3 separate regions of the Homo sapiens genome follow, and regions 1 and 3 are each reported to be linked to region 2. The links are microRNA targets in miRTarBase. Many come from high-throughput screens and were not tested one by one. Region 2 holds a microRNA gene; each other region holds the end of a gene's coding sequence.
What was found. Region 2 holds the annotated microRNA hsa-miR-4739 (AAGGGAGGAGGAGCGGAGGGGCCCU, at 1,497-1,521, shown strand). A microRNA usually pairs through its seed, bases 2 to 8, with sites in the 3' UTR of a target mRNA and lowers its output. Matches are read on the target gene's strand: a 7mer-m8 pairs with bases 2 to 8, a 7mer-A1 pairs with bases 2 to 7 and ends in A, and an 8mer does both.

Region 1: the mRNA of CAPN15 is a reported target of hsa-miR-4739. Seed matches in the 3' UTR shown: 7mer-m8 at 679-685, 7mer-m8 at 813-819 and 7mer-m8 at 1,461-1,467.
Region 3: miRTarBase lists ATP6V1A as a target of hsa-miR-4739. Seed matches in the 3' UTR shown: 7mer-m8 at 553-559.

The regions. Positions count from the first base shown.
Region 1 is chr16:553,007-556,159 of GRCh38, forward strand. CAPN15 (calpain 15) reads left to right here. Exons shown (of 14, transcript NM_005632.3): 13 at 1-35; 14 at 333-1,630. The coding sequence ends at 510. Among named protein-coding and RNA genes, the nearest start is that of PRR35, 5.8 kb to the right of the region's middle.
Region 2 is chr17:79,705,584-79,708,736 of GRCh38, reverse strand. It overlaps MIR4739 (microRNA 4739), which reads left to right and starts at 1,488; the gene lies at 1,488-1,561. It overlaps LINC02078 (long intergenic non-protein coding RNA 2078), which reads right to left and starts at 1,471. Exons shown (of 2, transcript NR_109783.1): 1 at 1,081-1,471; 2 at 1-265. RefSeq lists enhancers at 386-1,007, 1,008-1,629.
Region 3 is chr3:113,809,076-113,812,228 of GRCh38, forward strand. It overlaps ATP6V1A (ATPase H+ transporting V1 subunit A), which reads left to right. Exons shown (of 15, transcript NM_001690.4): 15 at 260-2,981. The coding sequence ends at 352. Among named protein-coding and RNA genes, the nearest start is that of GRAMD1C, 28 kb to the right of the region's middle.

The DNA.
Region 1 (3,153 bases), not on the chromosome of region 2:
CTGCGTACCCAGGATAGCGTGCCACCCCTGCACAGGTGCGCCCCCGCCCCTGCCCCCCCACCCCTGCACAGGTGCCCCCTCCCCTACCCCGCTGCACCCACACCCAACTCGTGCCCCCCCACCCCTGCACAGGTGCCCCCTCCCCTACCCCGCTGCACCCACACCCAACCCATGCCCCCCCCACCCCTGCAGAGGTGTGCTCATACCCCTGCCCCCACCCCTGTACGGGTGTTTGTCACCCCACTCCTGCTCCTGCCCCTGTACAGGTGGGCACAGCCCTGCCCCCATCCCCACCCTGCCCTCCACAGGTCCTCACCGGTCCCCTCCCCCAGGCAGGTCCTGGTGATCTTGTCCCAGCTAGAGGGCAACGCCGGCTTCTCTATCACCCACCGCCTGGCACATCGCAAGGCAGCCCAGGCCTTCCTCAGTGACTGGACAGCCTCCAAGGGGACCCACAGCCCCCCACTCACGCCAGAGGTCGCCGGTCTGCATGGGCCCCGACCGCTGTGACCACCATGCCTGGGGCAGGGGCTGTGCACAGACGGACCCCCCACCCCCACACGCACTTTATGAGGGAGACCCCGACAGAGGACGCTTGAGCCAGAATCTCAGGACCCCGCCCAGGGAGCTGCCAGCCCAGGGCTCAGCTTCCCATGGGCCCCCCGCCCCCCTCCTTCCCCTCCCTGAACCCCACAGTCCGCCTGGCCAGGCCTCCTGGCCGCCACGCAGAATACCTCGAACCAGGCGGGCTGTGAACCAGCCCCGCTCACCTGCCAGCCCCAACACCCGACGGGGGCCGAGGCCAGGCTGCCCCTCCCTGTGGGCTCAGGGTCTCCTGCGGGCTAGGCAGCCAGGAGCTCTGTCCGCAAAACCAAATCTGGGTGTCAGAGGCCAAGACCCTGGGGTGGGATCAGGGACCACCCCTCACGGGGCATAAGGTCAGTTTTCCCCCAGAGCCCGGGTCCCTGTCCCCCACAGGGCAGGCGGGGTCCCTGGAGCCCTGGTGTGGAGCGGCGAGTCCCGGGGCGGTGCCTGTCTCAGAAGAAGGGGCCCTTGGCCAGCCCCCCAGCGACACTATGCAAATCCTGGAGTGCCCGCCAGGATCGAAGCCATGACTGGGTGCAGGCGGGCGCCAGGCCCGCTGTGGGTGGGCACCAGTTCTCAGCACCGCTCACTGCTGCCGGGCACACTGGGACCAGCAGGCTCCTCAGCCAACCCTGTCCCTCGGCCCGGCCCTGCCAGAGAGGGACCCCAGCACATCGTGGGCACGGGCAGGGCTCAGCCGCTCCCACCTCCCCACAGAAGCCCAGGAGTGTGTGGACGTCTGAGCCCAGCTTTCTGCGTGCCCTCCTGGCCCCTCACTCCCGGCAGCGGGCCGGCCTCGCCCCCACTCCCCCTCCTACCCCGGCAGGGGCTTCCGGGGCCTTTTCACCTGGAGAAACATTCCCACTCCCCTTTGGCCTCCCTGTACTCTGAGCTGTGAATATTTTTAACCCTGTAAATACGGCCAGCTCTTGTGACACAGAGACTATTTTATCAATTGTCAGTCCCGTTCCTTTACCATAGGATTCTCCACAGTGGCTTCCGACTCAGGCTCCAATGGACCAAATAAAAGCGTTTTGTTTTGTAATCACGCCTCCTCCTCCTGCTGTTGCCCCGCGCAGGGCCCTGTGGAAGGGCGGGGAGGTTGCAGGTCTGAGGGGTAGGCCCTGCCCAGGCATCCCGGGCAGGCGGACGGGTGGGGGCCCCTGGAGATGGCCGTGGTGGGGTGACTCACAAGCTTGTAAGGGGCAGCCGGCCCTGCCAAATGGACGCAGCCAGGAAGGACGGAGTGACTGGGCGGGGGCAGGGGTCAGACCCTGCGGCCGCAGCCCCAGGGCCGGGAAGGACTGGGCAGACGGGACAGCAGCGCATGCAGCTTCTTCCAGCGAGGCATCCGCACGGGGGGCTCTGTCTGAACCCATCAGTCACCCGGCAGGAGCAGATGGAGTGAGGGGGCGCGTGGGGAGAAAAGTTTCCTGTCCCCTCCCAGCCTCGTCCCAGGGTGGCCTCTGCCCCCACACGGGTGCTGCTGAGCAAAGCGCCCGCTCGGAGGCTCTGCTGTCTCCCTGGACGGAGTTGGGGGCTGGGGTGCGGCCGGCGCGGGGTAAGAGGCTGTCACGGGCAGCGTATCGAATGTGAAAGCAATTAAAGCCACCAGCAGTGTTCGCTCCGGGCGGGCCTCGGGCGGCGGGGAGCTGCCAGAACACATCTCACCTCGGTGCCCGCGGACGCCGGCCCTGCTGCTCCGCGACTGCGCCACGTCACACTCCTCCTGTGGGTGGGGGCCGGGCTCGTGCCCGCTCCTGTTTGGCACAGAGCTGGCTCTGTCTAGTCCTGGGGTATCTGGGACCCCCGTTCCTCCCGAGACCCTGCTCCTCTGTCCCTGGCCCCACCCCCACCACCACCCACCTCTCTGGCTTCTGCCACCCCAGTCCTGGGGTGGCCCAGGACAGAGGCCCACAAGAAGGACCCTCCTTCTTGCAGGAGTCCCGCACAGCAGGCAAGGGGTCCGTGCCCACCCCCTCAGCTGCCCAGAGTCCCCACTAGCCCAGCCAGCAGCCTCCTCTCCACTTGAAAGCCCCCGGGAGCAGCTCCCACAGGGAGGTGATGAGGGAAAGGGGGGGCGTCTGCAGAGGACTCAGGGTCCCACAGCACAGACCCTGCCAGGTGTTGGGCCGGGGCCACGTGAGGGGCTGCTGCGGAGGCCTGGAGGAGGCGGCTGGCAGCAGGTAAGGGGAAAAGATGCGAGCGTCCTGCAGGCAGCAGGGAGGATTGGCTGGGCAGGACACACAGCCCTGGCGCGGGGCAGACCTTGGTGGCAGCTGTCGGGGCTGACTCCTTCCCACTGTCACTGCCCGGCCCCCGCCCAGCCCTCCCCTCCCTTCTCTGTGCAGGCCTCTCCCCTCCCCCGCATCTCCTCCTGGGTCTCACCCCCACCAACAGCACCATCTCTCTGGTGTATCTGGTCTGTCCCAGCCCTGTGCCCCCACGGTGCCCTCTCCTGGCCCCTCTTGTTGGCGCTGCTGGCCACAGCCTTCCCGGGGTGGGCAGTGGCAAGTTCTCACTTATGAGGCATCGCTGTCAGAAGCATTTAGTGTACAAATTAGCCGT
Region 2 (3,153 bases):
TGGGGTCTCTCATCGTGTTGTCCCCACTTTATTCCAACGTCCACCCCAGGCCTGGGGGAGCCCAGGGAGGACCGAGTCTCCTGGGCCCCGCAGGGCGCACAGAGGTGAGTTTGGTGGTGCCGTCCCGACCTCGACAAGCATCCCAGCGAAGCAGGCTGAGCGCCCGGCTGGCTCCCTCAGGTCCCCTCTTCCGGGCCTTCTCCGTCCTGTTGATTTGGGTGTTTTAATGCAGGAAAGTAGGACACTGGTTGTCACCTGCCTGCTCCTACAAGGAAAATGCATGTTTGTGTGGTTATCCGTGGCCACCCCCACCAGGGCCTGCGGGGGGCCCAGTGCAGTGGAGGTGGGGAGGGGACTCGTGGGCTCCAGGATCCGTGGAGAGTGAGTGTCAGCGGGAGGGCGTCCCCCGACCTTGGTCAATGGAAGCTGCTCTTCCTGGGGGTCCTGCGGGAGGCCCGTGATGGGGGTGGGGGAGGAGGGGTAAACACCGGGCCCTGATTGGCCGCCTGTCCTTGGGTCTTTGCTGGTCCTAAGAGGGAACGGGGAGCACAGCTGGGGTCACAGCCTCAGCTGGGACTCCTGCCCTCCAGCACCTCAGCATCCTCCCTGCGGGTGCTCTCCTGGGGGCTGCTCAGGGCAGGTGGCAAGTAGGGGGCTGTGGGACCAGAGACAGGGGGTGGACATGCCCAGGGCCTGCCCTTTTGGCCTGCCGTGGAGACCCACCCAGGAGCACCTGGGGGCTGACCCTCCCCTGCAGAGAGCAGGGTGAATCCCAGCCCTGCCCTCACCTAACAGCCGGGTTCGAGGGGAGCGTAATTTATAATGAACCCCACTCCTCCCCCAACACCCGCCACAGGCAGGAGCCAGCCTCTCTCCTGACACCAAAGTCATGCTCCTGACCCTGCAGGCCACAGGGTGAGGAGGACCCAGAGGGGCAGCAGGGTGGGGGCGTTTCATAAGCCAGGGAGAGCTGCCCCTGTACATCCTCAGGCCTCACAGTGGAGTGAGGGGCGGGGGTCGCCTGCGTCCTCCACAGGAGCTCCTGTCATTCCACCTCCGGGGGTGCACTTGCCGACTTACCCCAGCCCTGGACTCACAGGCTGTGCTGCTGTCTGCCCAGGGCCTGGCGATTGCTGCGCCCATGATGGGTCCCACAGGCAGGCCCTGCCCTCCCATCGCTGGCTTCTGAGCAGGGGCTTTGGGGCTGCTGGACCTCAGAGGCAGAGCCGGGGCTTCTGGTGTCCCTATGTCTTGGATGCCTGGTGTCCTGAGGCCAGCGCCCCCCAGCTTGCACTGGGACCGTCCATGGAAGCAACTCCTCTTTCATCTCAGGCACTGGGGGTCCCAGGGCCAGGGAAGGGGCTGCGCAGCACCTCAGGAGCCCAGAAGAGCTGCCCGCCAGGGAGGAGGAGCTGGGGGGAGCAGAGGCCTGGACCAGCTGGGATGTTCCCATCGGCGTGTCCCTCCCGCCCAGGCCACGTGGGCAGGGGAGGAAGAAGGGAGGAGGAGCGGAGGGGCCCTTGTCTTCCCAGAGCCTCTCCCTTCCTCCCCTCCCCCTCCCTCTGCTCATCTCATCATGAGACAGCTGGCAAGGGCCTTCGGCTGCCCTGGAGTGCCCCTGCCCTGGCCAAGCTCTTGCCGCCCCCTTCTTCTGGAGGTGCCAGATGGGGCGGGCCCAAGGCAGTGGAGGTCTGGGCCCTGGCTCCAGCTCTGTCTCCTCCTGAGGGCCCTGGAGGAGCCAGGAGGAGGGCCTAGCAGGGCCGGGCAGATGGTGGGCCGGGAGGAGGGGCTGCCTGGGTAGACGGACCGACTGGCAAGACAGATGGTGGACCAGGCAGGGGTCCGGAGCCCGCCCCATCTGCTCCAGTCCCTGGTGGGACTTTTCTTGTCCACCTCGGGCTGAACTGGGATGGACTGTGTGGGTGGCTGTGGCCCAGGCCGGATTCTGTCACACTGGGTCCTCTGTCCCTGGGGCATGGCCAGCCGGGTGCTCATCTGGGGTCTTGAAGCCTCCTCCTGGCAGCTGGCACGTGGCTGGAGGTCATCATGTTTCGGGGGCTCCTGAGGGTCTGGGGGCCATGACTGAGCAGAGCCTGGGGCGCGTCCCGGGAATGAAGCCACCGCTGCAGATGAGGGGCTTTGTAGGTGGGTGGGTGACTGTAGCCCCTGGAGGGGCTGCCTGGGGCCCAACGCTGATAGGGCCCGGGACAGGAAGATGCTTAGTCACGTGTTTGCGCTGCAGGTGCACCCCCAGCCCAGGCGACATCAACGGCCAGCCCCACACACGTGAGGAGGGATTGTGGGCCCAGGGGCGCTCAGGATGGGGCCGGGCTGCTTCTCAGAAGAGGGGACGCTGAGCCCAAGCAGGCTGCACTCCTGCTTGGACGGAAGGTGGATGGGTGGGGTGGGAAGGGGTGGGAAACGCCCAGCCCTGATGGGCTTGCGGGAGCCTGCGGGAGGGCCTTGCGTCTAGCTAAGGCGTGGGGAGCACCTCCCGTGGCCCCGTCCTTAGACCCCCGAGGGGTGGGGCGCTGCGGGTGGATCCTGGGGGTCTGAGGGTGCCAGGAGGATTTCTCATGTTGAGTTCTAGTGTTGATGATGCTAATCCAAAAAATACCTGAACCAAAAACCAATTCCAAAGAAAATCCCGTGCAGCAATGGCTTTCGATCGGCTGCGGCTTCTGTGGAACAGCTTCGGTGTCTTTGGCGTTTGGTGTTTTCGGACAGGCTCGGAAGTCACGCTCCCCAGGCTCAGGAACCCCTCCTTTAAAGGAGGTCGGTCCGTTTCCTCAAGTCACAGGAGCAGACGCAGGGTGGGGGCGTGGGGCGTCATGGGGAACAGCAGGCGGGGTGCCAGGGTCAATGTTAAGGTCCAGGTCACTCTCCAAGGAGCCCGCTGAGGGCTCAGGGCTCAGGGCTCAGGTGGCCCTCCTGCCCGCCCCACCTCTTGCTCCCTCCAGCAATGTCTTCCTGCTGCCAGCTCTGGGAGCCGGAACGCTGCCTTCAAGGCTGGGCCCATCACGAGGACAGCTGCGCACTGTCCCCTGCTCACTTCCTGTCAGTCTCTTCCTGATTTCCTCCTTACACTCAGTTCTCTTGTCCCCTTGGCCTCTTAGTGGCTGGGTGACCTTGGGTAAGTCACTCACCGTGTCT
Region 3 (3,153 bases), not on the chromosome of region 2:
CTGTCTCTACTAAAAATATGAAAAAAAAAATTAGCTGGGCGTGATGGTGGGCGCCTGTAATCCCAACTACTTGGGAGGCTGAGGCAGGAGAATCACTTGAAGCCAGGAGGTGGAGGTTGCAGTGAGCCAAGATCGTGCCACTGCACTCCAGCCTGGGTGACAGAGCAAGACTCTGCCTCCAAAAAAAAAAAAGTAACTTAACATACGTAATGAAAATTATTTTCCAAATGCGAGTTGAATTTGTAATGTCTTCTTTCAGGATCCACTGAAAGATGGTGAGGCAAAGATCAAAAGCGACTATGCACAACTTCTTGAAGACATGCAGAATGCATTCCGTAGCCTTGAAGATTAGAAGCCTTGAAGATTACAACTGTGATTTCCTTTTCCTCAGCAAGCTCCTATGTGTATATTTTCCTGAATTTCTCATCTCAAACCCTTTGCTTCTTTATTGTGCAGCTTTGAGACTAGTGCCTATGTGTGTTATTTGTTTCCCTGTTTTTTTGGTAGGTCTTATATAAAACAAACATTCCTTTGTTCTAGTGTTGTGAAGGGCCTCCCTCTTCCTTTATCTGAAGTGGTGAATATAGTAAATATACATTCTGGTTACACTACTGTAAACTTGTATGTAGGGTGATGACCCTCTTTGTCCTAGGTGTACCCTTTCCTCATCTCTATTAAATTGTAAACAGGACTACTGCATGTACTCTCTTTGCAGTGAATTTGGAATGGAAGGCCAGGTTTCTATAACTTTTGAACAGGTACTTTGTGAAATGACTCAATTTCTATTGTGGTAAGCTCATTGGCAGCTTAGCATTTTGCAAAGGAATTGCTTTGCAGGAAATATTTAATTTTCAAAAACATAATGATTAATGTTCCAATTATGCATCACTTCCCCCAGTATAAATCAGGAATGTTTGTGAGAAACCATTGGGAACTATACTCTTTTTATTTTTATTTTTTATTTTTTTTATTATTTTTTTTTTGGGGACGGAGTGTCCCTCTTGTTGCCCAGGCTGGAGTGCAATGGCGTGATCTTGGCTCACTGCAGCCTTCGCCTCCCGGGTTCAAGTGATTCTCCTGCCTCAGCCTCCCGAGTAGCTGGGATTACAGGCATGCTCCACCATGCCCAGCTAATTTTGTATTTTTAGTAGAAACGGGGTTTCACCATATTGGTCAGGCTGGTCTCGAACTCCAGACCTCAGGTGATCCGCCCACCTCGGCCTCCCAAACTGCTGGGATTACAGGCGTGAGCCACCGCGCCTGGCCAGGGACTATACTCTTTTTAAAATAGACATTTGTGGGGCTCACACAATATATGAAATAGTACCCTCTAAAAAAGAGAAAAAAAAAATCAGGCGGTCAAACTTAGAGCAACATTGTCTTATTAAAGCATAGTTTATTTCACTAGAAAAAATTTAATATCAAGGACTATTACATACTTCATTACTAGGAAGTTCTTTTTAAAATGACACTTAAAACAATCACTGAAAACTTGATCCACATCACACCCTGTTTATTTTCCTTAAACATCTTGGAAGCCTAAGCTTCTGAGAATCATGTGGCAAGTGTGATGGGCAGTAAAATACCAGAGAAGATGTTTAGTAGCAATTAAAGGCTGTTTGCACCTTTAAGGACCAGCTGGGCTGTAGTGATTCCTGGGGCCAGAGTGGCATTATGTTTTTACAAAATAATGACATATGTCACATGTTTGCATGTTTGTTTGCTTGTTGAATTTTTGAACAGCCAGTTGACCAATCATAGAAAGTATTACTTTCTTTCATATGGTTTTTGGTTCACTGGCTTAAGAGGTTTCTCAGAATATCTATGGCCACAGCAGCATACCAGTTTCCATCCTAATAGGAATGAAATTAATTTTGTATCTACTGATAACAGAATCTGGGTCACATGAAAAAAAATCATTTTATCCGTCTTTTAAGTATATGTTTAAAATAATAATTTATGTGTCTGCATATTGCAGAACAGCTCTGAGAGCAACAGTTTCCCATTAACTCTTTCTGACCAATAGTGCTGGCACCGTTGCTTCCTCTTTGGGAAGAGGAAAGGGTGTGTGAACATGGCTAACAATCTTCAAATACCCAAATTGTGATAGCATAAATAAAGTATTTATTTTATGCCTCAGTATATTATTATTTAATTTTTTAGGTAATGCCTATCTCTTGGTCTATTAAGGAAAGAAGCAATCAGTAGAGAATTCAGGATAGTTTTGTTTAAATTCTTGCAGATTACATGTTTTTACAGTGGCCTGCTATTGAGGAAAGGTATTCTTCTATACAACTTGTTTTAACCTTTGAGAACATTGACAGAAATTATGCAATGGTTTGTTGAGATACGGACTTGATGGTGCTGTTTAATCAGTTTGCTTCCAAAGTGGCCTACTCAAGAGGCCCTAAGACTGGTAGAAATTAAAAGGATTTCAAAAACTTTCTATTCCTTTCTTAAACCTACCAGCAAACTAGGATTGTGATAGCAATGAATGGTATGATGAAGAAAGTTTGACCAAATTTGTTTTTTTGTTGTTGTTGTTGTTTTGAATTTGAAATCATTCTTATTCCCTTTAAGAATGTTTATGTATGAGTGTGAAGATGCTAGCGAACCTATGCTCAGATATTCATCGTAAGTCTCCCTTCACCTGTTACAGAGTTTCAGATCGGTCACTGATAGTATGTATTTCTTTAGTAAGAATGTGTTAAAATTACAATGATCTTTTAAAAAGATGATGCAGTTCTGTATTTATTGTGCTGTGTCTGGTCCTAAGTGGAGCCAATTAAACAAGTTTCATATGTATTTTTCCAGTGTTGAATCTCACACACTGTACTTTGAAAATTTCCTTCCATCCTGAATAACGAATAGAAGAGGCCATATATATTGCCTCCTTATCCTTGAGATTTCACTACCTTTATGTTAAAAGTTGTGTATAATTGTTAAAATCTGTGAAAGAATAAAAAGTGGATTTAAATTAACATTTTTTTCTTTTTCTCTTTTTTATGGCACAATCTGCTAGAAAATATGTACCTTGTATCTTGACTTAATGTTTTGGTATGACCTTTTAAAATTTTTTCCTTCCTTTTTTATAGATTGTTACTTAAGATTATGAAATTGAATTGGAGCCCTCATTATAGCCTGCAAAAAGTC